Linked DNA regions of Homo sapiens: all the other regions are linked to region 1. Evidence: fine-mapped expression QTL. A gene starts in region 1. Each other region holds a variant in brackets. All regions are shown on one strand. Distances are between the middles of the regions.

What was found. PIP is the estimated chance that this variant, and not a neighbour inherited with it, causes the effect.
Region 2: its variant is fine-mapped to the expression of EPB41L4A-AS1 in tibial nerve (GTEx, PIP 0.98).
Region 3: its variant is fine-mapped to the expression of EPB41L4A-AS1 in whole blood (TOPMed, PIP 0.94).

What each region holds. Positions count from the first base shown.
Region 1 is chr5:112,156,433-112,164,443 of GRCh38, forward strand. It overlaps EPB41L4A-AS1 (EPB41L4A antisense RNA 1), which reads left to right and starts at 4,094. Exons shown (of 3, transcript NR_015370.2): 1 at 4,094-4,863; 2 at 5,271-5,343; 3 at 5,719-6,069. It overlaps EPB41L4A (erythrocyte membrane protein band 4.1 like 4A), which reads right to left. Exons shown (of 23, transcript NM_022140.5): 23 at 6,187-8,011. SNORA13 (small nucleolar RNA, H/ACA box 13) reads left to right here and starts at 5,053; the gene lies at 5,053-5,185. RefSeq lists enhancers at 3,961-5,160, 3,979-4,188, 4,061-4,793, 4,569-4,668, 4,689-4,738 and 1 more.
Region 2 is chr5:112,210,923-112,218,933 of GRCh38, forward strand. The region is part of intron 12 of EPB41L4A (erythrocyte membrane protein band 4.1 like 4A); the gene reads right to left. Among named protein-coding and RNA genes, the nearest start is that of SNORA13, 53 kb to the left of the region's middle. RefSeq lists an enhancer at 6,674-7,175. The variant G/A (reference allele first, on the strand shown) is at 4,569.
Region 3 is chr5:112,201,144-112,209,154 of GRCh38, forward strand. EPB41L4A (erythrocyte membrane protein band 4.1 like 4A) reads right to left here. Exons shown (of 23, transcript NM_022140.5): 14 at 4,278-4,361; 15 at 3,232-3,345. It overlaps LOC124901044 (a long non-coding RNA gene), which reads left to right. Exons shown (of 3, transcript XR_007058902.1): 3 at 229-400. Among named protein-coding and RNA genes, the nearest start is that of SNORA13, 44 kb to the left of the region's middle. The variant G/T (reference allele first, on the strand shown) is at 3,114.

The DNA.
Region 1 (8,011 bases):
GGCAGAAGATTAACGTTCCAGCTGATAGAGTCAGGCAGACAGCAAGCGAATCCTTTCTTTATCCCGTTTTTTGTTCTATTGAGGCCCTCAAAGGATTAAGTGATGCCACCCACATTGAGGAAGTACATCTCCTTTACTCAGTTTATTGATTCAAATGCTAATCTCCTCTGGAAACATCCTCAAAGACACACCCAGAAATAATGTTTAGCTAGATGGCTGAAGATCCTGTGATCCAGAGTTGATACATAAAATCGACTATCACACATACCATTTTCATATAGATGTCAACTCTCCTTCAGTTGATCACAGATCCAATGCAATTCCAATAAAAATCCCAACAATCTTTAGATTGTGAAGTTCAGTGAAAAGATGATGAAATATGGCTTTAGCAGTACAATCCTGAAGACAAGCGTAATCAAACAATGACTACCAAAAAGGAGAAGGAGTCCAAGTGAACCAGTTCAATTCATTGAACTTTACAATCTAATTCTAAAAACTATGTGCAAGAGAAAAGGGACAGTAATAGCCAAGACTTCCCTGAAAAAGATCATGGTGTCTGCGTGGTGATATGGATGTGGGAGGGCAGGGTATTTGCCCCGAAAATATAAAGACATTATAAAAAATATAGTAATTGAGACAGCGTAATATTGACACAGGAGAGACAAATAGACCAGTAGGACAGAATAGAGAGTGCAAAGGTACATCCATGCAAAAAGAAAAAAAAAAAACAACCTGATCTATGATGATGGTGGCATGGTAGATCTGTGTAGAAAGGATGGGCTATTGATAAACCACCTTAGAGCAACTGGTTATCCCTAGAACTCACTATAAGCAAAAGTCAGCTTTATATGGATTAATTATTTTAAAATGAAATGTGCACAAGTTTGTCTGCAAAATCTCGTTTCCACTCCTAATGAGAAAATCGAGATGGGACAAGAAATGGTGGAGTAACAAATAAAGCTCACTTACTCTCTACCCCTTATAGGTTATATTAGGTTTCTCTTGCTACCATAACAAATTAACACAAATTTAGTGGCTTAAAACAACATACATTCATTATCTCACAGCTCTGTAGGACAGAAATCCCTGCTCCTTTGCTGTCAGCTGAGGGTTATTCCCAGGTACTAGAGGCTGCCCATATTCTTTGGCTTGTGGCCCCTTCCTACATCTTCAAAGCCAGCAATGGAGGGTTGAGCCCCTCTCATGTCTATTTCTCCTGCCTTCCCTTCTGCCAAATCTCTAACTCTTCTGCTACCTTCTTCCATTTTTATCCCCCTATCTCAAGGTTCCTAATATTAATCACATATGCAAAGCCCCTTCTGCTATGTAATGCACCATATTCACAGGTTCTGAGAATTAGGACATGAATATCTTTTGGGGAGAGATTATTATTCTGCCTTCCACACAGGGAAACCCAGGTTGCTTCACATTTGCACTACCACTGTGTGGCTTGAACATCCTTACACAGTGCCTCAGCCCAGCAGGCAAGGAGGAAGCAGAGACTAGGTAGAAAATATCCACTATCTTCTTCTCATGTCCTTTCTGCTTACCTGTACTTAGTAATTGGGTTTTCTGTACCAGGATTCAGGAGGCTGAAGCAGACAGGGGAGAGGAAGGATTTTGAATTGATTTCCTAAAACCTAACACTGATCCAGTAATTGGAACAAATGCCTTCCTCTGCCTAATTTTGGAAAGTTTAGGGAAGAGATACAAAGGGAAGAAGAGAAAAGAGGAAAGTGGGAGCAATAATGTAAAGCCATTAGAAGAAAAACAGCATGTTTCCCCCTTTCATAAGAACTCAATACAAGAAGGTTCCATATTTGGGGTAGGGGTAAAAGAGAGGAAATGTCTAGCTCATTTGAGTCATTTATTAGATGTCATTATGTACCACACACAATGCTACGTGATTCCACAAACCTTTCATAATTCTTTAAACTAACCCATATAGTACATGTGTGTAGTTATTACCTTTAAATGAGGAAACTCAGGCTCACAATGGTGGTCACATACCTAAGGGAACAAATATCAGAGGTAGATATAAACTAAACCTATATATGCTGGCTGCCCCAGTCCAAGAAAATTTCCTCTCTCTCACTGCATTAGTCCATTCTCATGCTGCTGCCAATCAAGACATACCCGAGACTGGATAATTTATAAAATAAAAAGGTTTAATTAACTTACAGTTTAGCATGGCTGGGGAGGCCTCAGGAAACTTACAATCATAGCGGAAGGGGAAGCAAACACATCCTTTTGCACATGGCAGCAGGAAGGTGAAGTGCCAAGCAAAGATCTGGTGAGATCTCCTGAGAACTCACTCACCATCACGAAAATAGCATGAAGGTAACCAACCCTATGATTCAATTACCTCCCACCAGCTCCCTCCCACAACACCTGGGGAGTATGGGAACTACAATTCAAAATGAGATTTGGGTGAGGACACAGCCAAAACATGTCACTGACTTTCCCTAGCAAGAAGGCAAGACTAAGGCATGTTATAATCCCCACACTGTGCCTTTCGCTGTCTTTAAAGGACAATCTTCGTGTTACTGCCTTCCTTCTGCAAACTTCCTTTTGCCCCAGATGTTACAGTGACTTCCTAATGAAGTCTGGAGTTACTTACCTTCTTGTAATAATTATACATTTACTAATTCTGTACAGTCATTTTCTCCAGATTGATTTGGTTATTATTCATGCTAGTCCTTGTGTGATGACCACTGGGCTGTGAGCCTGAATTTTCTTTTTTTTTTAAACCACTTTATTGAGGTATGATTGAGATACAAAAAGCTGTATTTAATGTATATAACTTGATGTGTTCGGAGATAAGCTCCTTTTCTTCTCTTTCCTTCTTTCTTTTATAGAAGTAGGCTTCAAAGAAACAACGAAAGGTGCTAAAACTGGTCTCTGGATGAATCTCTGCTAGGACTTAGAGAAACATGGAGACCTAGTTGTTATCATACAACTTGTCTTGCTGCCACTTGTCCTGTCCCTTCAAGGAGTTATGGTTATCAGGAAAAAAGCCAATTAACAAACTCTGCTTAATTTTTGTGGTGATAATTAATCAACTCTAAGATTTCAGCATAAAATCCCAACACCTTGCCCTGTGTGACAAGACCCTAAGTGCCTTGCTCCTGCCTGGCTCTCCAGCTGCATCTTGTCACTCTACACTCCTTACTCGACTCCAGCCACACTGGCCAAGGCCTGCTGTCTCCAGATCTTGCATAACCGCCTTCACACATCTGCTCGGAGTTCACTTCCAGTCTTCCTATTCCTAGCCCCATGAGCTACTGAACACTTGAAATGTGTCTAGTCTGAACGGAAATGTGCTGGAAGTATAAAATATACACCGGATTTTTATGACTTAGTAGATATAAAAGAAATATCTTATTAATAATCTCATATTGATTGCCTGTTGAAATATTTAAAATATGTTGGGTTATTATTAAAATTAATTTGATCTGTTTCTTTTTACTTTTTTTTTTTTTTTTTTGAGACGGAGTTTCGCCCTTTTGTCCAGGCTGGAGTCAAGTGGCATGATCTCGGCTCACCGCAACCTCCACCCCCACCCCGCCCGGGTTCAAGCCATTTCTCCTGCCTCAGCCTCCCAAGTAGCTGGGATTATAGACGCCCGCCACCAAGCCCAAGTAATTTTTGTATTTTTAGTAGAGACGGGGTTTTGCCATGTTGGCCAGGCTGGTCTTGAACTCCTGACTTCAGGTGATCACCTGCCTCAGCCTGCCAAAGTGCTGGGATTACAGGCATGAGCCACCGCGCCCGGCGTTCTTTTCACATTTTATGTGGCAATTGGAAAATTTAAAATTACACTCATGGCTCACACTGTTTCCATCGGACAGCGCTACCCTATGGCATGACCCTCTTTTGCTGCCCTCCTGGCACTTACATTGTAGAATTTCAGCATCCGGGCTCACTTGGTCAGTGGCCTACTCACCCAAGCAGAATGTACCACAGAAACCTTGCCTGGCTCACCCACACCTGATTCCCAGGCACTCAGGCCAGGGCCTGGAGCATAGTAAGTGCTGACTAAATATCTTTCGAATGAATGACTCTACTCTTCCTCAGCTGGACTCATGAATTCTGTCGGGTCCCAAAATACGTGGTCTAAAGTCCTTTGGGCTCCTGCCGCTGCCAGCACTGATCATATGCTCTTGACCCTGGTCGGGTGGGGGGATGTCTGGATACCTCCTCTGTGGAAAGAACTGGCCACACATCCGCAGAGGTGACTCGGGCTGAGAACCCAGGCTCCTCCTCCCTTTGGTGACACGCCCCTCGGTCCCTCACTGGCACTTCTCCCTCCGGCCACACGGCGGCGTCTCGCCATAGCGCAGCGGCCGATGGTACAGCCCGCTCCCCCCTCGCGCTCTCGGACAGTGGGTCCTTCCACTTGTAGAAAAGCATTGTGGGACGGAAGCCTGTCCTTTCTTCCTTTTGGTGCGAGCTTGCTGTGGTTTTTGCTCTGGGTCCTCTGGGATGGCGCCTGGCTGTGGCCGCGTGGTCTCTCACGCAGGGGCGCCGGGCGGGGGAACGCGGCCACCCTGAGTCTGGTGAGTCGACTGCGGCGGCCTGTGTCCGAAGTGTCCGGGGCCGTGAACAAGGGCAGCGGCCTGGCCTCAGGCCTGCGTTCCCACGTTTGGAAACGGGGAGCTTCGTCGATTTGTGTTTACATCATCGACTATGCCAGGGAGTTCTCCAGATAAGCCTGGTTTTATTTTCGTCAGTGAAAAGGCCTTACCGTATAACTGACTTTATGCTTGCCCTGCCCCCGTATAAAATAACTTAAAAGCAGCGTGCCTGGTTACAGCTGTTTCCACGTGCGGTGCTCGTCGGGAGTGATCACCTACCCTACAGGTGAGTTTTCACGTTCGTGCAAGACCAGTCGCCATTTAAAACGCATCGCATTTCACTTTTCATTATTAAGTCGGATTTTAAATCGTGAGAAAATTTCTCTGAAATGTATTGTCCGTTTTTAGGCTGTAATCGGCATTACTGTCAGCCAGTCAGCAACCTTATGCCATAAAGCCTACCTCACGCAGTGTCAGCCTTTGTGTTGCCCATTCACTTTGGAAACTAGTGAATGTGGTGTCAAAAAAGGCGTAAATTAAACGCTTTGCAGCCTTTTCCTGCCCTTAAATTTGATACCTTTGGTGTAGGAGCTGCATAAGTAACAGTTGCTGCTTTTACGTTTCCACGCGTGATCTTGACCCTGCTAGCCTTAAGTGTATGGTTTCTCTTAGCCAGTTCTAATTTTTGTTCAGGTGGAAGATGGATGCCTGAAGTGTAGACTGCTGCTAGCTGAATACCATCTGGGAGCATAAAGGTGACCTGAAGGTAGGGTGATATGTCTTAAAGCACTTTGTAATGGGAATTTTTATCACCTTTTAAATTGGGGTTCCTTCTCTAGTGAGTTTTAATGTCAGTGGTACATTCGTAGTGTTGCTCTGTCTGTAGCTATTAAGGTGAGTTAATAAATGGGATAGCCTCCACAGCTTATTTTTGGGAAGGTTTTGCTGATACTTCCTGAGAAGCCCAGGGAAATAAATACGCATAGTACTGGCATTCTGCATCTCTTTAAGATTTGTTTTTATGTGTAGTAATTGAGTTTTTTAAAAGCTTGTGAAATCGCAGGCATATTACCAAGTTCTTGATTAAAATGTAATACAAAAATATTTGCTGTCGAATTGAGTACTTTATTTTTTCTCTTAGGATGTCCTTGGTGAGGATTTTGAAAATTTGATCTTCACAAGAGTTGCCTGGATCATTTGAAATTTCTGGGAGTCTGAGGAGTACTGACATAATTACCTGCTGGAGTCTGTAAATACACATTTAAGACAGTGAGGATGTGAATAAATATATTAATGCACTTTGGCATTTGTGTTTTAAGTGATTAACTGCCAGAAACAGCTATTTCTAAAAAGTTATAAGGGAGGAGGGGTTCTTTTTTGATCAGTATTCACTGCTGTCACCATAATTAATAGCCTTAAAATAGCTTGTGTTTGGCCCAAAGAGAAATGTACTTTCTTCCAGTGACTCAAAAATCGTGGCTAGAACTAGACTGATTTCTAGTGACAGGTGTGCTTTACTGCACTCAATGCGTATTTTTCCTCCAACTAAATTGTACATTTAATGTTGCCATATCTTCTGCCTTTGCTTTGCAGGAAACGACAAATAATGTATAGAGGTATTCAAAAAATTTATTGAAAGCACTGTACTAGGAGCTGAGAACACGATGATGAGCACAACACAGTTCTTCCCTTTGGAAACATAGATAAGTGGAGGGAATGTCATCACAAATGTAAAACTTCACTATGAGATGAGTTCCGTGATAGGATTTTCTTAGGGAAACCTGAGAAAGAGTTGAGACTAAAGGTATGTGTCATATTTTTCACAAGGCAAAACTGGGGGAATGACATATACAGAGGCTTGGGCTAGAAAAAAGATACCGTTAGTCCACTTACTTTTGAGACAGTTTTGGCTGCTTTCCCTCTTCAGTGCCCTGTTTTAGAACTGAGTCCTTACTGAGGCTTGTAAGATGGCTATTATGGGAGGTGAGAGTGTTACAAAATGAGGCTGAAGAGGTAGGTAAAGAAGCCAGACCACTTCAGGCTCCCTCTGGCTTTATTAAAGCAAGATAAATCCATGGTGGAAAATCAGATTTGCAAGAAAAGGTAGTTGAACTAGGTTGCTTATTGTTGTCTAGACAAGAGACCAGCTTGGACTAGTAAAATTAGTGAAATAAGATCGTTTATAGTTGGATGACAGAGCCAACTAGACGTGGTAATAGTGGAGGTGTCCATAACTGCTAGGTGTCCAGCTTGCACACTGATGAGCATAATGACCCTAGATTCAGCTGGGGAGCAGCATTTAAACAGCTGAATTTTTAAATTACCTTTGAGAAACCCAAATGGTCTTTTTGCAGTAGCACATTACTCAGTAGTCTAAACTACAGAAATAAACCTTAAGGCCATGGGTATAAATGAGATCTGCTGGTGGTAGAGGAAGAGGGCCTAGGGTCTGAAGTTTGAGAAACTCCACTAATTAATGGCAAGGTAAAGCATGATAAGCCAGAAAGGATGGTCAGTGGTAGGAGCAAAATAGGATTATATTAAAGAAGCAAAAGAATGTCCTAAAAATTCTCCCTGGGATTAAGTAACACAGTGATTGATATTAGTGGAGTAGAGGGAAAGATCCATGTTAGAGATAGCTTAAGATAGGGATTAGATGAATTGAGGGCAATGACTAAAGATACTGCTTGCAAGAAAACTGGCTGAGAATGAGAGGAAAATCTTAGTTGCTTGGCGGGAGGGGGTTTGTGGTTGTGAAAGATAGTTTTGTTTAATCTTAGTCTTAAATTTAAAACCAAGTAGCAAGGATCTAGCTGAGAGAATAATTGAATACATTAATATAGGAGGACAGACAAAGATCCTGAAAAGGCTGGGAGAAGAGCATCCAAAGCACAGGTGGAGAGACAAAAAGGTTAGGGCTGCTGGCAGCTGTGGAGAGAACTGTACGTGGTAAGGGGGAGATATAAGATGTCCTGCATAAGTATTTTCCCTGTAGATTGCAAAGTCATCTATGGAGAGGAAAGGTACAAAATAGTCACTGGGGAGAGCAGGTGAATTAGATGGCCAAGCAGGGTGGATGGATCATTTGAGGTTTGGGGTGACAGATCAACTGAGATCCACTTACACTTCTGAAAACGCAAGAACACTTTAGAAATTAACAACACTTAAAGCTTTTTACATCATTTGTAAATAACTGGTGGAACTTAACACCACAAAATAAAGTATTATAAAGAACTTTATATGAATAAAAATATATGCAGTCTGAAAGTGATGCCTCAGTCCTTTTGCATCTGGGCACTAGTTGAGAACCAGCCCAGCCCTGGGAAGACGTCCTCCCACTTGTACTATTGCACAGCAGGCTAGCTGCAGTTCAGAATTCCAGAATGTTCATCAGATGCATCTGGTCTTGGTTGTGGTGGACACAGACACAAGAT
Region 2 (8,011 bases), 54 kb after region 1:
CAATGCATAACGGTCACTAACCACCGAGAATGTCATGAAGATGAGTTTGTAACATTAATAAGCACTAATATTTATTGAGTACTTACTATGTGTCAGGTACTATTACAAGCGCTTCACATCTATTTACTCATGTATCCTCAAAATAATCCTATGAAGTAGATATCAATGTTATCTCATTTTAAAAGATTTAAAAAAAATGGGCCTTTCTCAAGGTCCCACAGCTCCTGAGTGGTGGGGCAAGCTTTGAAGATGGGCAGTCTGGCTCCACAGACTTAGCTCTGAACCACACACTACTTCCACCTGTGGCCCCACAAGCAGCTCAAGAGTCAGTCTAGATTAGGAGTCAACTGGGAGAGACAGACTCTTAAAAGGGCAAGTGGGCCAGGCGCAGTGGCTCACGCCTGTCATCCCAGCACTTTGGGAAGCCGAGGCGGGCGGATCACGAGGTCAGGAGTTCAAGACCACTCTGGCCAACAAGGCAAAACCCCATCTCTACTAAAAATATAAAAATTAGCTGGGCATGGTGGCGCATGCCTGTAATCCCAGATACTCAGGAGGCTGAGGCAGGAGAATTGCTTGAACTGGGACCCGGGAGGTGGAGGTTGTAGTGAGCTGAGATTGCGCCACTACACTCCAGCCCTGGCTACAGAGCGAGACTCCGTCTCAAAAAAAAAAAAAAAACCCACACAGCAAGTGAAAGTGATGTTCAATGAGAAGAACACTTCAGAGCAAGGCAAGAGGACAAGACAAGAGAAACACCTGAGCACCCTCAAAGTTGGCAAGTTTCCTCCAGAGCAGTTGGGAAGTATGTCTGGCTTACCCATCAGGAAAGATAAACATTAATAAATACACTTTAGACAGAGAAAACAAAGGGTGGTTTCAGATAAGAGTTCCAAAAACTGTTACTCTAAGGCATTTGACATGGGATTCCATATCTGAATTGTGTTCCTATTTTGGAATCTTGAAATGAAAAGGTGAGCCTGAAGACACCTGTGGCACAAAAGGTAAGCTCATGCTGGAGCCACTACCAATAACTGAGCAACATCCAGAAGCCAGGAATAAGAAAAGACTAATGTTAGGGTAAATTCTGCCTGGTGTGATAAATGGAACACAACCAATTAATTCCCTGGAACTACTCCACGTGCCATCAAACGTCAGCAGTGGCCAGTCACCATCTTAGTCAATTTTGCCATAACCATGTGACCATTAACAAAATCACAAGGGCAGATTCTCAAAATTGCAGGCAAAGATTTGGGATGAAGCTGCTTCTCACAGGTAGAACTCCATGTGGTACACGTCTGGGGCAGTGGCAGAAGGGACTAATTCATTTAGGTCCTAGACAGTAGGTGTGCCCTACCATTAGTTGTTTTTGTTTTTTTTTTTCTCCTGAGACAGAGTCTTGCTTTGTCGCCCATGCTGGAGTGCAGTGACATGATCTCAGCTCACTGCAACCTCTGCCTCCTCGGTTCAAGCAATTCTCCTGCCTCAGACTCCCAAGTAGCTGGGATTACAGGCGCATGACACTGAGTCCAGCTAATTTTTTTATAATTTTAGTAGAGACAGGGTTTCACCATCTTGGCCAGGCTGGTCTGGAACTCCTGACCTCAAGTGATCCACCCACCTTGGCCTCCCAAAGTGCTGGGATTACAGGTGTGAGCCACTGTGCCCAGCCCCCTAACATTAGTATTTTTAATTGTTCTTAATAACCTTTATTTAAATGTGGTGGTATTCTTAGCAGATATTACTAATATTTAATATAAATGAAAAGGAGCTTCATGTCCTAGGGCTGTTTTCCTAGGCTGGGAGAGGGGGCCACAGCAGAGAGACCAATACCCAGTGTCAATAACACCAACTGAAAAAAGCTGAGTAAAGGTGAACATCCTGTTAACCAAGGCCCTGAGTAACTAGCTTAAGAAAAGACCTAGGTTTGCTCCCACCCTCATTCTCTTTAGACTGACTACTTTTTTCTTAGTCTAACAATCAATTACTTTAGGAAAAGTGCCTAATCACCTTCACCTGTTTCCCTTCCATCCAAAAATTAACAGAGAAAAACAGAATATTTTTAAAAAGAAAAATTGCAAACTATGTTTATATATTTGCTTAAAGAAAGCAATATTTGGTTTTTCACAATGTCTGAATCATAATTTTTAAGATGAAGCATTATTTGGATGGTTTTCCAAAAGAATTTCAGGAAAAAAAAATCATGTGAGTGCTCTTTGTCACAAACACTCACAACCAGCATAGCCAAACTTTTTCAAAATAAATTGTTCTACTGTCAGGACTAATTTACTAATGTGACAGTGCTATAACTCTCATATACCCACTGTAGACGAGATAAGGTATAATCAGTAATATGACTTAATTCATGGTTCCTTTATATTCAAAATGGTAATCTACTGTTCACTGTTAACATGTACAGTTTTTTTTTTTGTTTTTTTTTTTTTAAGATAGACTCTTGCTCTGTCACCCAGGCTGGAGTGCAGTGGCACGATCTCAGCTCACTGCAACCTCTGCCTCCTGGGTTCAAGTGATTCCCTTACCTCAGCCTCATGAGTAGCTGGGATTACAGGCATGCACCACCACGCCCGGCTAATTTTTGTATTTTTAGTAGAGATGGGGTTTCACCATGTTGGACAGGCTGGTCTCAAACTCCTGGCCTCAGGTTATCTGCCCGCATCACCTCAGCCTCCCAAGGTGCTGGGATAACAGGCATGAGCCACCAAACCCAGCCAACATGTACAGTCTTTTTATATGAACTAAATATCTCTTCATCTGTACTCCCCTACTCTATAACAAATGTGAACTAGACAAGCCTGGGTTTTAAAAGCCTTATTAGGAAGACTACATGGGGAAAAACCACTTAGAAGCATTAACTTACTGGGAGCACTTCTGAAGTATCCATTCATATAATAGTCACATGCCTTCATTAGGCAATATGTTTTAGTTTTATGTCACTAAATATGTAATCTAAAAGCAGTAAATATACTTTCAGAATAATATATTTTAACCACTGTCCAAATTAGTAAGATTTTACCATACCACCATTTGAGATAGCTAATCAATTCAGTAAAGCTAGGTTATATGTTGGTGATTGAAATCTGCAGAGGTGAGAAATTTAGGTTATGCATTATTTAGGTTTACTGACTTTCCATTTTGTTAACATGGACCACTAAATTTTCCTTTTCCTCCCCTCATCATACCACCTTCCAGAATCCCTCCTACATCAGCTCAGACTCGGGCTACAGAGAAAAGTGACCTGACAAATCCATCCCACTAATGGGCTTATGTCTTCATGTATTATGTACCACAGAACAGTTCCATTTTGAAGATGAGTAAAAGGAAAGACCAAATATTAACTAAAATAATTAACCAATAACAAGGGAATTTCAGGCACTGTTCCAGAAAATATTTGGAGGTTAGATAAATCTTTCCCCACCACCACTGCTTTTTCATTTAAATATCAGACATAAGAAAAGGGTATAACATACATATATAAACAGCTTAACAAATAATCATACAGTAAACCACCACCCACTTCAAGAATTAAAACACAGAGGGCAGCCGGGCGCGGCGGCTCACGCCTGTAATCCCAGCACTTTGGGAGGCCGAGGCGGGCGGATCATGAGGTCAGGAGATCGAGACCATCCTGGCTAAAGCAGTGAAACCCCATCTCTACTAAAAATACAAAAAAAATTTAGCCAGGTGTGGTGGTGGGCACCTGTAGTCCCAGCTACTCGGGAGGCTGAGGCAGAAGAATGACGTGAACTCAGGAGGCGGAGCTTGCAGTGAGTGGAGATCGCGCCACTGCACTCCAGCCCAGGCGACAGAGCAAGACTCCATCTCAAAAGGCAAAAACAAAAGAAAAAAAACACAGAGGGCAATTTTCCTGCACTTCACAATCATCTCATTTGGGGCAATTCTTTACTTTCTAGATAAAGTTAAACAGTTGCTTTCTGCCTAAAATATCTGGAAACACAGATTATTCTGTGTTTCATTTCATAAAATATTTGACATATAAAACAAAATTATTTTTAAATTAAAAACTTCATAAGGCCTCAAAATCTTAATAAAATGAAGGACACATCATTGTGCACCCACATGGCTGCCAGAACAGTGCACCACCCATGGTAGGTACTCAATGAATGTCTATTATTAGAAAGGATGTATTTCTGTTTCTACCATTTTTGCCACTAGAGAGGAAAATTCAGGATAATGATCTTTATTTAATAAGTGTCAAAAGTAAAACAAAAACTATTAATAGATGTGGTGGTACCTGAGACGCATGTCAAAAGGACATGCGGCAATATACCTTGCAGGACTGGGCTGCTTCTTAGAATTTTAAAAGGCAGTCTTCTGCAGTAGCACACTGCTGTTTCAATTCACAGCCACAGGTGATCTGCAATCAAGATCAGTTATTGACATATGGCTATTAAGGCTTTGAAGTAAATCTGTATTTTACTTCAAGTAAAAATAATAATAACTCTAGTGAGGCCACTTAGAATTAATCAAGAGTGTCCAATTCATTTTACATATTGTTCACATTAAAAAGACAAAGCTTGCTCGGGCGC[G/A]GTGGCTCACGCCTGTAATCCCAGCACTTTGGGAGGCCAAGGCGGGCGGATCATGAGGTCAGGAGATCGAGACCATTCTGGTTAACAATGGTGAAACCCCGTCTCTACTAAAAATACAAAAAATTAGCCAGGCGTGCTGGCAGGTGCCTGTGGTCCCAGCTACTCGGGAGGGTGAGGCAGGAGAATGGCGTGATCCCGGAAGGTGGAGCTTGCAGTGAGCAGAGATCGCGCCACTGCATTCCAGCCTGGGCGACAGAGTGAGACTCCATCTCAAAAAAAAAAAAAAACAAAAAAAACAAAAAAAAAACAGACAAAGCTTAATTCCAAAAGGCTGCTCGTATTTTGAAGAGTATGTCAGTCGGGGAGTGCTATCATTTATTAATGAGCCAAATCTAGCTCATGGCCTGTGATATTTGTTTCTGGGCTGTTAGACACCACAGCTTAATATGTGCACACACAATTCCCTGTGGTTTATACAGTACTGAAATGCCAGTGTGCAAAGCTCCAGGGTTTCATTTGTTCGTTTTTAATACACTATATCCAAATACTTCCATCCTGGTGCATCAGACCACTACCAGTCCTTTGAGTGGTTAGATTCTGTTCACATTTGAGTACCTCCATCTTAAGTGATCCTTGCCTTCAGTTCAGGAAGTGTGACTGTCAGAAACAGAATGAACTTTCCCAGGATCTATTTAGCTACTTTATCTGGGGGCAATTCTTAAAAGTCATCCCTGTGATGTCAAGATTTGGTGATGAATATACACGTATTTTCAATTACAAAAATACTTTGCAATTAAATAGGATTACGAGTCTCACAAAATTCATAAGTCAATTTGACACCTGTCAACATAAATCAAATCTTTGATGTTACTTAAATGTTGCCATTCCTTTTAATTTTTAGAGTGAGGGTGAAGGCTGAATGTGTGAAATTAAAATGAAAAAAATGTATTTGGAAAGCGAGAATACCTTATTCTGATATGTGGGGAAAATAACATACAGCTAAACAAGTAAAACAAGGTTGTGACATACACTTTCTTTTAAAAATTCTCAAATATAAATTTATAAACCTTCAGGTTAAATCTTGTCCTACTTAACAATCACATTTTCTTCCCTTAACATAAAAAAAAACTGTATAAAATGCTTAAGACAAATAATAAGATTATAGCTATTCTCAACACAGTAAGTTATTAGGTTTCAGTTAACACAATCTGATTTGCATGACCTAACCCAGTTCAACTTATCAAAAGACATGATATTTGTGAATTAAGAACTGACCAATAATTGAAAATATATTTTAGCTCTATTTCTCACATTGACAGCTCAAAGTGACTTTGCCTTAATTTCACCAACTTTAGACTAGGTACTATGGAAAAAATGGCAGTATAGCAAATTAGCAAAATAAAACATTCTTTTTCTATACCACAAATTACGGCCAAATAGCTAAATATTCAAGAAAACCTTATATAATTTTCCTATCATCATGGAATTTTTTTTTTTTTGAGACAGAGTCTCGCTCAGCCACCCACTCACTGCAACCACAGTCTCCCAGGTTCAAGCGATTCTACCATCTCAGCCTCCCGAGTAGCTGGGATTACAGGCACCCACCATCATGCCCAGCTAATTTTTGTATTTTAGTAGAGATGGGGTTTCACCATGTTGCCCAGGCTGGTCTTGAACTCCTGACCTCAGGTGATCCACCTGCCTCAGCCTCCCAAAATGCTAGAATTACAGGCGTGAGCCACCGCATCCAGCTGGAAAATTTTATATTTGGCAAAACAGATGCTCATTAAATTCTATAAAGCAAAAATAAATATTAAAACATAATTTGGAAAATAAAGATGTTTCTGCATCCAATGGCTAATTGTTTAAGTTCAAACACCTGGCTCATCCCCAAAAGGCAGCCAGATTCCTGCTTAAGAATTCCTGGGCTGAATACAGTAGCTCACTCCTGTAATCCCAGCACTTTGGGAAGACAATGCAGGAGGGTCGCTTGAGGCTAGGAGTTTGAGATCAGCCTGGGCAACATAGTGAGACCTATCTCTACAAAAAAAGTTTTTTTAATTAGCCAGGCATGGTGGCCCATGCTTGTCATCCCAGTTATTGAGACTGAGGCAGGAGGATTGTTTGAACTTGAGAGTTTGAGGTTACAATAAGCCATGATCACACCACTGCACTCCAGCCTGGTGACAGAGTGAGACTCCATTTCTTAAAACACAAAAAATGTTTCTGCCTTCTAAAGTTCCAAGAGTGATATTTAAGCAGTTGCCTTTTTACTAGATATACATAGACTTTTTAGACACCAATTTTGCTACTGCAAGATCAAAGAAGGCATTCTACTGAAAAGCTGGAGGGTAGATTATAAGGAATGGGTGTGGAGGAGAAAGATGCTAGGAAAACATGTCTATGCATGAAAGGCCCCCTCCTGAGTTGTTCTGCTTCCAATTTCCTCTTCCCAGACCCAGTACTCTCCTGGATCCCTCTGCTTTCGTCATTACCAAAATGATAATTTGGGACTGTGAGTGCACATAAAGGCACTTCCTCCTCTGCCCTTCCCCCAGTGCTACAGAGTGTGTGGAGGAGCTACAGGGTGTGGAGGTACTCACAGACAGTCCTCCTTGTGGGTCAGAATGCCAGGTTCAAAAACAAGAAAGGGATTTGTGAGGCTAGGAAGGCATCTGCTCATTCCCTTAGAACTTCAAAGGAGTAGGATGAGAGACTTCTATCTGAAGATTTGTAATCTACACCAGCGTGGAAAGACTGCCAGATGTGGTAACAGGAGAGGGTGCACATTGTTCCTTCAAGCCCTCTTGGACCCAAAGATAACACCTATCTATGAATGGTCAGCTGGAATCAAGAGGTGTCACGAGTCACTTGGATATCAAGTTTTTCTTCCTGTGATACGAGTTTGAGGGAAGAGAGTTGAGTGATCACTCACATCCTTCCCAGTGGTACTCCTGGTGCCCTCTCCTCCAATCCTCTATCAGGGCTACACAGCCGACTGACACACACCAAACATTCTCCAGCCATCTCTCAAGCCCCACAATTTATGCTTGCTTGGTCTAGGGCAGGTGGATAGTTCCATACCTAACCTAAAGCTGGTTCTGTCTCAGAGGAGAGTGCTAGAACACTACTTTTGAGGTTTTTATTTGATGCAATTTTAATAGTAAATAAAGTAAATGCAAATATAAACTAAGCATACCTGTATATCAAGATTGTTTTTAAAATGCTTATTTAGCTAAGGCAAAATTGGGAAGTTTTTTGTCTGCTTCCACGTTTGAGCTCATCTCAAGGACTCTGTAGTGTTTTATTTTACGCAAGCACTCACTAAAAGAATTTTGAAAAACAATGTACCTTGTGCTTGTTTCAAAATGATACCTAAAATTTTTCATGAAAAGTTTAAATAGTACCAAAGGATATAATTTGAAGTATAAATATGACATTAA
Region 3 (8,011 bases), 45 kb after region 1:
ACAGAGAAGAATGTGCTTTAGTCCTTTTTATGTCAACATGCAGCAATGGCTCATTGCCTCAAAACACACGTCCCCAAAAGAGACCTGTAAGTGCATCAGGCAAAAGGCTCTATGGATGCTCAGGCAAAAAGATCCTCTTCCCAGCAAATTTAAATAGCCTTCCCCTGGAATACGCCAATGAAAGGATCCTGTATCCACTCTCCACAATTACTTCTCTGTGTTTCACAGGAAGCCAGCGGAAAATGAACCTCAGTGTAGAAGTCAAGTCTGGATTTGGGAGTGTATATGCTGCAAACTATTTCAAGCAATTATTTTGTATGAAAATATGCAAATTTAGCCATATTTTAGCAAAATGTAATTAAGCTCATTTTCAAATGTATTAAAATGACTATCTGCTCAACATGTGTAATTATTTTATATAGGGAGTGCTGACAAATTGCACTAATTAATTAAGGGTAGAAAACTATAAAACTCTATCTACGAATAATATATGCTAAATTCTAATCATCCCTGCCACCTATGTCGCCTCAACACACAATACACACAAATGCACTTTAAAGTATTTCCCAGTGGTGTTGCTTTGGTTTTAAGTATTGTCCAAATTGAACCAACTCTTGGTGTTCCCAAGGAGAATGCTGAGTAAGGGCTGAAGTACAGTTTATTTAAATGAGGGCTATCACTATCTCCACCTTTTTCAGATGTACAGGCTGGGATTCCAATCCCATGTGTGCCACAGAGGACAAGCTACCATCATCTCCCTGAGCCTCAGTTTTCTCATCTGTAAAACTGAGATGGTGATGGTGGGCTGAATATTTTTCATTGGTACTCAGCCTCTACTGACTCATCTATAATCTACTCTCTACTGCAGAGATAGAAAGCCTGGAAATTTTATATTCCTGGACACTTTGCCAGCTGGGTTCTAGTTAAGAGAGACTCCAGTTAGATCTGAAGGCAGAGAACAGGAAAAGTTATTTTCCTTCTAGTTGTACCTGTGGCATCAACTCTTGCACTCCTGAGAAGTGGGGGTTCTTTGTTCGGCTACAGTGGTGGTATCTCCAGCAGTGTCAGCAAGAGTGGTCCCTGTCTAGCATCCATCACGGTGCCTGCAGCATTGTCAGCAGCAAGCACAGGCTCAGGATTGCCTGCTCAAAGGTGGAAGCGGCTTCTGGTCTCCAGGTAACACCCACTTCTCTCTTTGCATTCCTTCAGTCCAGAGGCAGTAAAAGCAGCTAGATCTCTTGAGTTACACCACTCTCTGCTTTTTGCACCTTCAATCCTACTTATACCTTTGCACCAATTCCCTACTTAATCCCCCTCTGCTAGAATCACATCATGCCTGAATACAAATGCCATTTCCCAAAGGGTTATTATTGGGATTACATGAGATAATATAGAGCAAGCACTTTGCTCAGTACTTGGAATATGGCAATACCAAACAAATGCCTACTATTACCCTATTATTCTGTCTAATCATTGTTGGACCTGATCTAGCACCCTCATGTCAGTCCTACTACATGAAGGTAATATAGACCCTTCTCTTCTTAACCATCAAAGGATTTCAGTGAAGTTGAACTTGGTTTCAGAAAGCTGGGGGCAAAGCTCTGGGAAACTAGCAGAAGCAAAAGGGATCAAGCAGGAAAAGGCCAGCAAGTGTGTATTAACTAGGGCATAGGTGAAAGAAGGGCTTGGCTTCCAAACCTGCAGTGTGCACAAAAAGAGTCTTGATGGTTACCTGACATCATGAACTGAAACTTCTTGTAAGTATAAAAGTCATTTAGGCTGGGTGCAGTGACTCATGCCTGTAATCCCAGCAATTTGGGAGACTGAGGTGGGAGGACTGCTTGAGGCTAGGAATTCAAGACCAGCCTGGGCAACATAACAAGTGAGACCCCATCTCTACTTTAATTTATACATTTTTATTTTTTTAAAAAAGGAAAAAGAGGCCGGGCGCGGTGACTCATGCCTGTAATCCCAGCATTTTGGGAGGCTGAGGCAGAGGGATCACGAGGTCAGGAGTTCGAGACCAACGTGGAGAAACCCTATCCCTACTAAAAATAAAAAAATTAGCCGGGCCTGATGGCGCATGCCTGTAATCCCAGCTACTCAGGGGGCTGAGGCAGGAGAATCGCTCGAACCCAGGGGGCAGAGTTTGCAGTGAGCCAAGATCATGCCACTACACTCCAGCCTGGGCATCAGAGCGAGACTCCATCTCAAAAACAAAAACAAAAACCACAAAAACCAAAAAAAGGAAAAAGTCATTTATACAATGCCAATTATGTAGGTACTCAAAATAAAACACAGTCCCTGCCATGTAGGAGTGAAAAGAATTTCACTGATGAGTCATTTCTACATCTTCCTCTCTTGTACCTGTCACACTGCCCAGCCTGCTTTGCAGAGAGGTCCAAAACTTCCAGCTAAGAACTTTTTAAATTAAGCATACACACACAAATATTATCCCTTCAAACACTCTACCCGTATAGGTAAAATGTAACAGGATTCATTTTTTTCTGTGCTTTAAAAGGCGTTTTTCAGCTAAAAAGGCTTATCTTTAAGTGTAGTTTTGTCTTCTCAGGTAGAAACACTTAATATGTTTTATATATTAACATATACTATCTCGTCTGGGCGCAGTGGCTTACACCTGTAATCCCAGCACTTTGGGAGGCCGAGGCGGGTGGATCACCTGAGGTTGGGAGTTCGAGACCAGCCTGACCAACATGGAAAAACCCCTACTAAAAATACAAAAAAATCAGCCGGGCGTGGCAGCACATGCCTGTAATCTCAGCTACTGGGGAGGCTGAGGCAGGAGAATCGCCTGAACCCAGGAGGCGGAGGTTGCAGTGAGCTGAGATCGTGCCACTGCACTCCAGCCTAGGCAACAAGAGTGAAACTCCGTCTCAAAAAAAAAAAGATATACTGTCTCTACTTTGTAATATACTATATATAATACATATTTTTATTATATATTATATACTATTTTTAGACACATTATTCATAAATAGAATACAGAAAGCAAGTTCCTGCCAATATTTTATGAAATTATTCTCTAAAACTCTGGCTGTTTACGATAAATACTTCAGGATTCCTAACTTATTTTATGTCAAAAAGAGTAAGCT[G/T]CTTGTTATCTTGGAGAGAAACAGTAATGTCGGTATAAGAATCACCTATTATAAAGTCAGGCCTGGGACAAAATGCTTCTGTTGAAAGCTGCTAACAGAGAGATTGTGTTCCGCTTACCTCCTCCTCACAGGCTGTACAGAATCATTGTCACTTCCACAGGAGGGGTTTCGGCGACGCGTGTAAGGGAACTTTGGCGACTTAGTGCGATCACTGGGAGAATTGTAGAGTCCACTGGAGAGAAAGAAAAATGGTCAAAAAGAGCCCAGAGAGTTCCTGGGGGAAAACACACCGCAGCCCAGACCTATTCATAACTGCACAGCTGGTACTTCCAGAGGCACATGCACCAGGGGCACGTGGTTCTCTTTGCTGACAAGATTTATTAAAAGAAAAGAGGTAAGATCTGGCAAATCAAATCATAAAGGTCATTATTTTGCAGGAATGCCATTTGTCTCACTAGCCTTCAGTAGTAAAAAATGAACACACACAAATAACAATAACAATTCATACATATGATGAATTTAGCCCTTTCTAAACACTGACTCAGCTAAAGACTTTACATTCATTATCTCAGCTAATCTTCATATCAGCCTTCAGCACTGAGATACAACTATTAAACCTATTAAACAGAAAAAAAATTGAAATATAGACTACTTAATTAAGTGGCCCAAATAAAGTAGCTAGGAAGTGGCAGGGCTAGAATTTGAACTATAAGTTACAACACAGGTCTGTCACTGGTTTGGTAGTTGTGACCAGAGATACACTAGACATATCCATATTTTTAGGAATAAAGGTCTTCCAGCATAACTATTCATCAGCTATAGTTTTTGACTTAAGTTTTTAACCAAAACTATGAAATGGGGAAAATTATTAATATGCCATTTAGAGTTTTCAGAAATATATTACCTTACAGGCAATTTCATAATATTTCCTAGGTTTCCCTTTTGCCTTTCCAGGAAAAAGTTTCATGTTATAAAACATACTGTTGATTTCCACTTCAGAAATCCCAGCCCCTCTCCCCTGGGTCACATTGATTTAGAGTCTGCCCACTTTATCCACAGCTAGCTGTGATCAGCCACCCAGCAGCTGGATTCCTTTATTCAATGAGCTGCATGTACTAACCCCTTTTCTACTGTCTCCTTTATAAAAACAATGATTCCCTTTACCTCTGGGGGCCATTTTCTTCCCACGGTGCATGAGATTTGCTTCTTTGGGTATCAGGGCTATTTTCATTCTTTGCTTTCTTAAAGCTTTAATTTTAAAAAAAAGTATGAGAAATAAATTAAGTAGAAAATAAAAGTAAACTCACATACTTATTTGTTAAGTAAAACTTTTTAACAAATGTTAAGATGTGCACACTTATTTGCTTGTTTATACCTGTGACTCTAAAAAGAACATGAAGTCGCTGCCCATAAAATCTGTCTCCAGCAAGTACCTTTGGGTCTTTCCCCCCTCTTTCTTTCTAGTTTTACTGCTTTAGTCAACAGATGCCAGGTCCATCAATTGTTAAGAAACTCTAGAGTCCACCTGCAGGAGAGGCAGCAAGGGGAACCACAGAGCCAAGAAAATAAGAAAGCCAAGGAGGAAGGACCTGGGCTACCCAGGATCTTCAGCCTGGCTCCCTTTTTACAACAGTGATCAGAGAAGCCCTTACTCCAGGCACGGGTCTGAATCCACACAGGTCGGTCAGCCCCGGGCAGGTTCAGGCTATTCAAACTGACCTTTTCCTGGCTTCCGCCTTATCTTGGCTTCATCCCTCCAGATGAGAATGACTTTCAAATGCTATTTCCTGACCTAGTATCATCTTTCAGTCCTAAGAATGTAAATGTAACTGAGTTGTTCTACCCTCAACAAATTGTTTTAGAAACCCCTGGGGAGACATGGAGGAAGGGACTAATCAGAAGCCTCCAGGCACCAGTGGGGAGGGGTGTGTCACCTCTCACATCCTCAGGAGTCTTAGCTTAAGATAAAGATAGAGCTATTTAACTCCAAATCCACTTTTAACCCTGGCTTTTTGAGGAATCCTCTGTATAACTGTCCTAGGATAGGGTCATAGAGGAGTACTTTGTAACAGCCAACAAAGAGGAGAGAGGAAAGATGACGAGGTATTAAAAAAAAAAAAAGACTTGCACCCTAGTATACTATCCATGATGGAATTAAAGTAAGCCTATAAAATTTTGTATCTGACAGAGGCATATAACCCATAGTATTAGTAGATGGCAGCTTAGTTTATTATTTTTATAAAGGCTAAAAACCTCTACAGATTCAATTCCCAAAGTAAAAGCTTACCTTTTGAAATGATGAAAATTAACAAATATGGCAGATATTTAATACGATAGTAGAAAGTGTATGGGATCAATAAATCAGAAAAAGCAAAGAGAAGGGAGAAGGGAGACTGGAAAAGAAATAGGGAGATAAAAGAGGAACTGAGAGAGTATACAAAAGTTAAAGAATAATAAAATCCTGGGTGACAAGTTAATTGCATTCACACCCTAAGGTATTTCTCATCTGAAGCTTGAGAGGAAAACTTTGGTGGTGCTTCAAGTACCAGTATCATCACAGGAATGTGGTTGCAAAGGGGATTGAAAAATATTGTTAAAATGGCCATACAGCCCAAAGCAATATACAGATGCAATGCTATTCCTATCAAACTACCAACATCATTTTTTCACAGGAAAGAACTATTCTAAAATGGACCCTCCCTCCAAAAAAGCCCAAACAGCCAAAGCAATTCTAAGCAGAAAGAACAAAGCTGGAGGCATCACACTACCTGACTTCAAACTGTACTACAAGGCTACAGTAACAAAAACAGCATGGTATGGTACAAAAACTGACAAAAAGACCAATGCAATAGGATAGAGAACCCAGAAACAAAGTCATACACCTACAACCATCTGATCTTCAACAAAAGCAACTAGAACAAGCAATGGGGAAAGGACTCCCTAAATGGTGCTGGGATGGCCAGTCATATGCAGAAGAGTGAAACTGGACCTCTTCCTTTTACTATATTCAAAAATCCACTCAAGATAGATTAAGAACTTAAATGTAAGACCTCAAACTATGAAAATACATCTTAGAAGAAAACCTAGGAAATATCATTCTGGACATCAGCCTTGGTGAAGAATTTATAACTAAGTCCCCAAAAGCAATTGCAACAAAACCAAAAATTGACAAGTGAGACTTTAAAGAGCTTCTGCACAACAAAAGAAACTATCAACAGAGTAAACAGACAATCTACAGAAAAGGAGAAAATATTCACAAACTATGTATCTGACAAAGGTCTAATATCCAGAATCTATAAGGAACTTCAACAATTCAACAAGATGAAACAAACAATGCCATTAAAAAATGGGCAAAGGACATCAACAGGCACTTTTCCAAAGAAGACATACATGCAACCAACAAATACATGAAAAAATGCTCAACATCATTAATCATTCGAAAAAAGCAAATTAAAATCACAATAAGACACCATCTCCCCAGTCAGAATACCTATTATTAAAAAGACAAAAAATAAAGATGTTGGCAAGATTGTGGAAAAAAGGGAACACTTTTACACTGTTGGGGGAAATATAAATTAGCTCAGCCATTGTGGAAAGCAGTTTGGAGATTTCTCAAAGAACTTAAAACAGAACCACCATTTGATCCAACAATTCCACTACTGGATATATACTCAAAGGGAAACAAATCATTCTACAAAAAAAGACATATGGCTGGGCGCAATGGCTCACACCTGTAATCCCAGCACTTTGGGATGCCAAGGCAGGCGGATCCCGAGGTCAAGAGATGCAGACCATCCTGGCCAACCTGGTAAAACCCCATCTCTACCAAACCTACAAAAATTAGCTGGGAGTGGTGGCACACGCCTGTAGTCCCAGCTACTTGGGAGGCTGAGGCAGGAGAATCGCTTGAACCCAGGATGCGGAGGTTGCAGTGAGTCAAGATGGTGCCACTCCACTCCATCCTGGCAACAGAGGGAGACTCCATCTCAAAAAAAAAAAAAAAAAAAGACACATACACTTACATGCTCATTGCAGCACTATTCACAATAGCAAGGACATAGAATCAGCCTAGATGACCATGAACAGTGGACTGGATAAAGCAAATATGGAACATATACACCATGGAATACTACACAGCCATAAAAAAGAATGAAACCATGTCCTTTGCGGCAACACGGACGCAACTGGAGGCTATTATCCTAAGTTAATTAACACAGAAACAGAAAACTAGATACTGCATGTTCTCACTTATAAGTGGGAACTAAACATTGAGTACACATGGACATAAAGATGGGAACAATAGACACTGGGGACCACTAGAGGAGGAGAGGGGGCAAGGGTTGAAAACTACCTATCACGTACTGTGCTCACTACCTGAGTGATGGGATCATGCATACACCAAACCTCAGTGATAAACAATTTACCCATGTGACAAACCTACTGGCACACGTACCCCTGGACCTAAAATAAAAGTTGAAAAAATAAATTTTTAAAAGGAGGATTGTACTCCTTCTGCACATTCTAAAAAAGCGTGGGATCTGAATCTCATGGAAGATTCCTGTTCTTATGCTGAACATACCACAAGCATACCCTGTACATACAGATGAAGCTGAATCTCTATCCACAGCTTGAGGGTGACTAAGGGAAATACAGTAAACTAAAGTTATGCAATGATAAAGAACTTGTCATCCTAAAAGGAGAACCAGTAAATGTCTTAGAACCAAACAAAACATAGGCAAATCCCTGCGTAAAATATTAAAACTCTGAGAATCTTCAGATCTTAAAGTTATCTTGCTGAGAAATTATGAACTATACTCCTCAAAGTAGCCACAATACAGCTGAATGAAGCCACTATTATTTACCAAAAAAATATCAAGTAGATGATCTAAGAAGTCTTT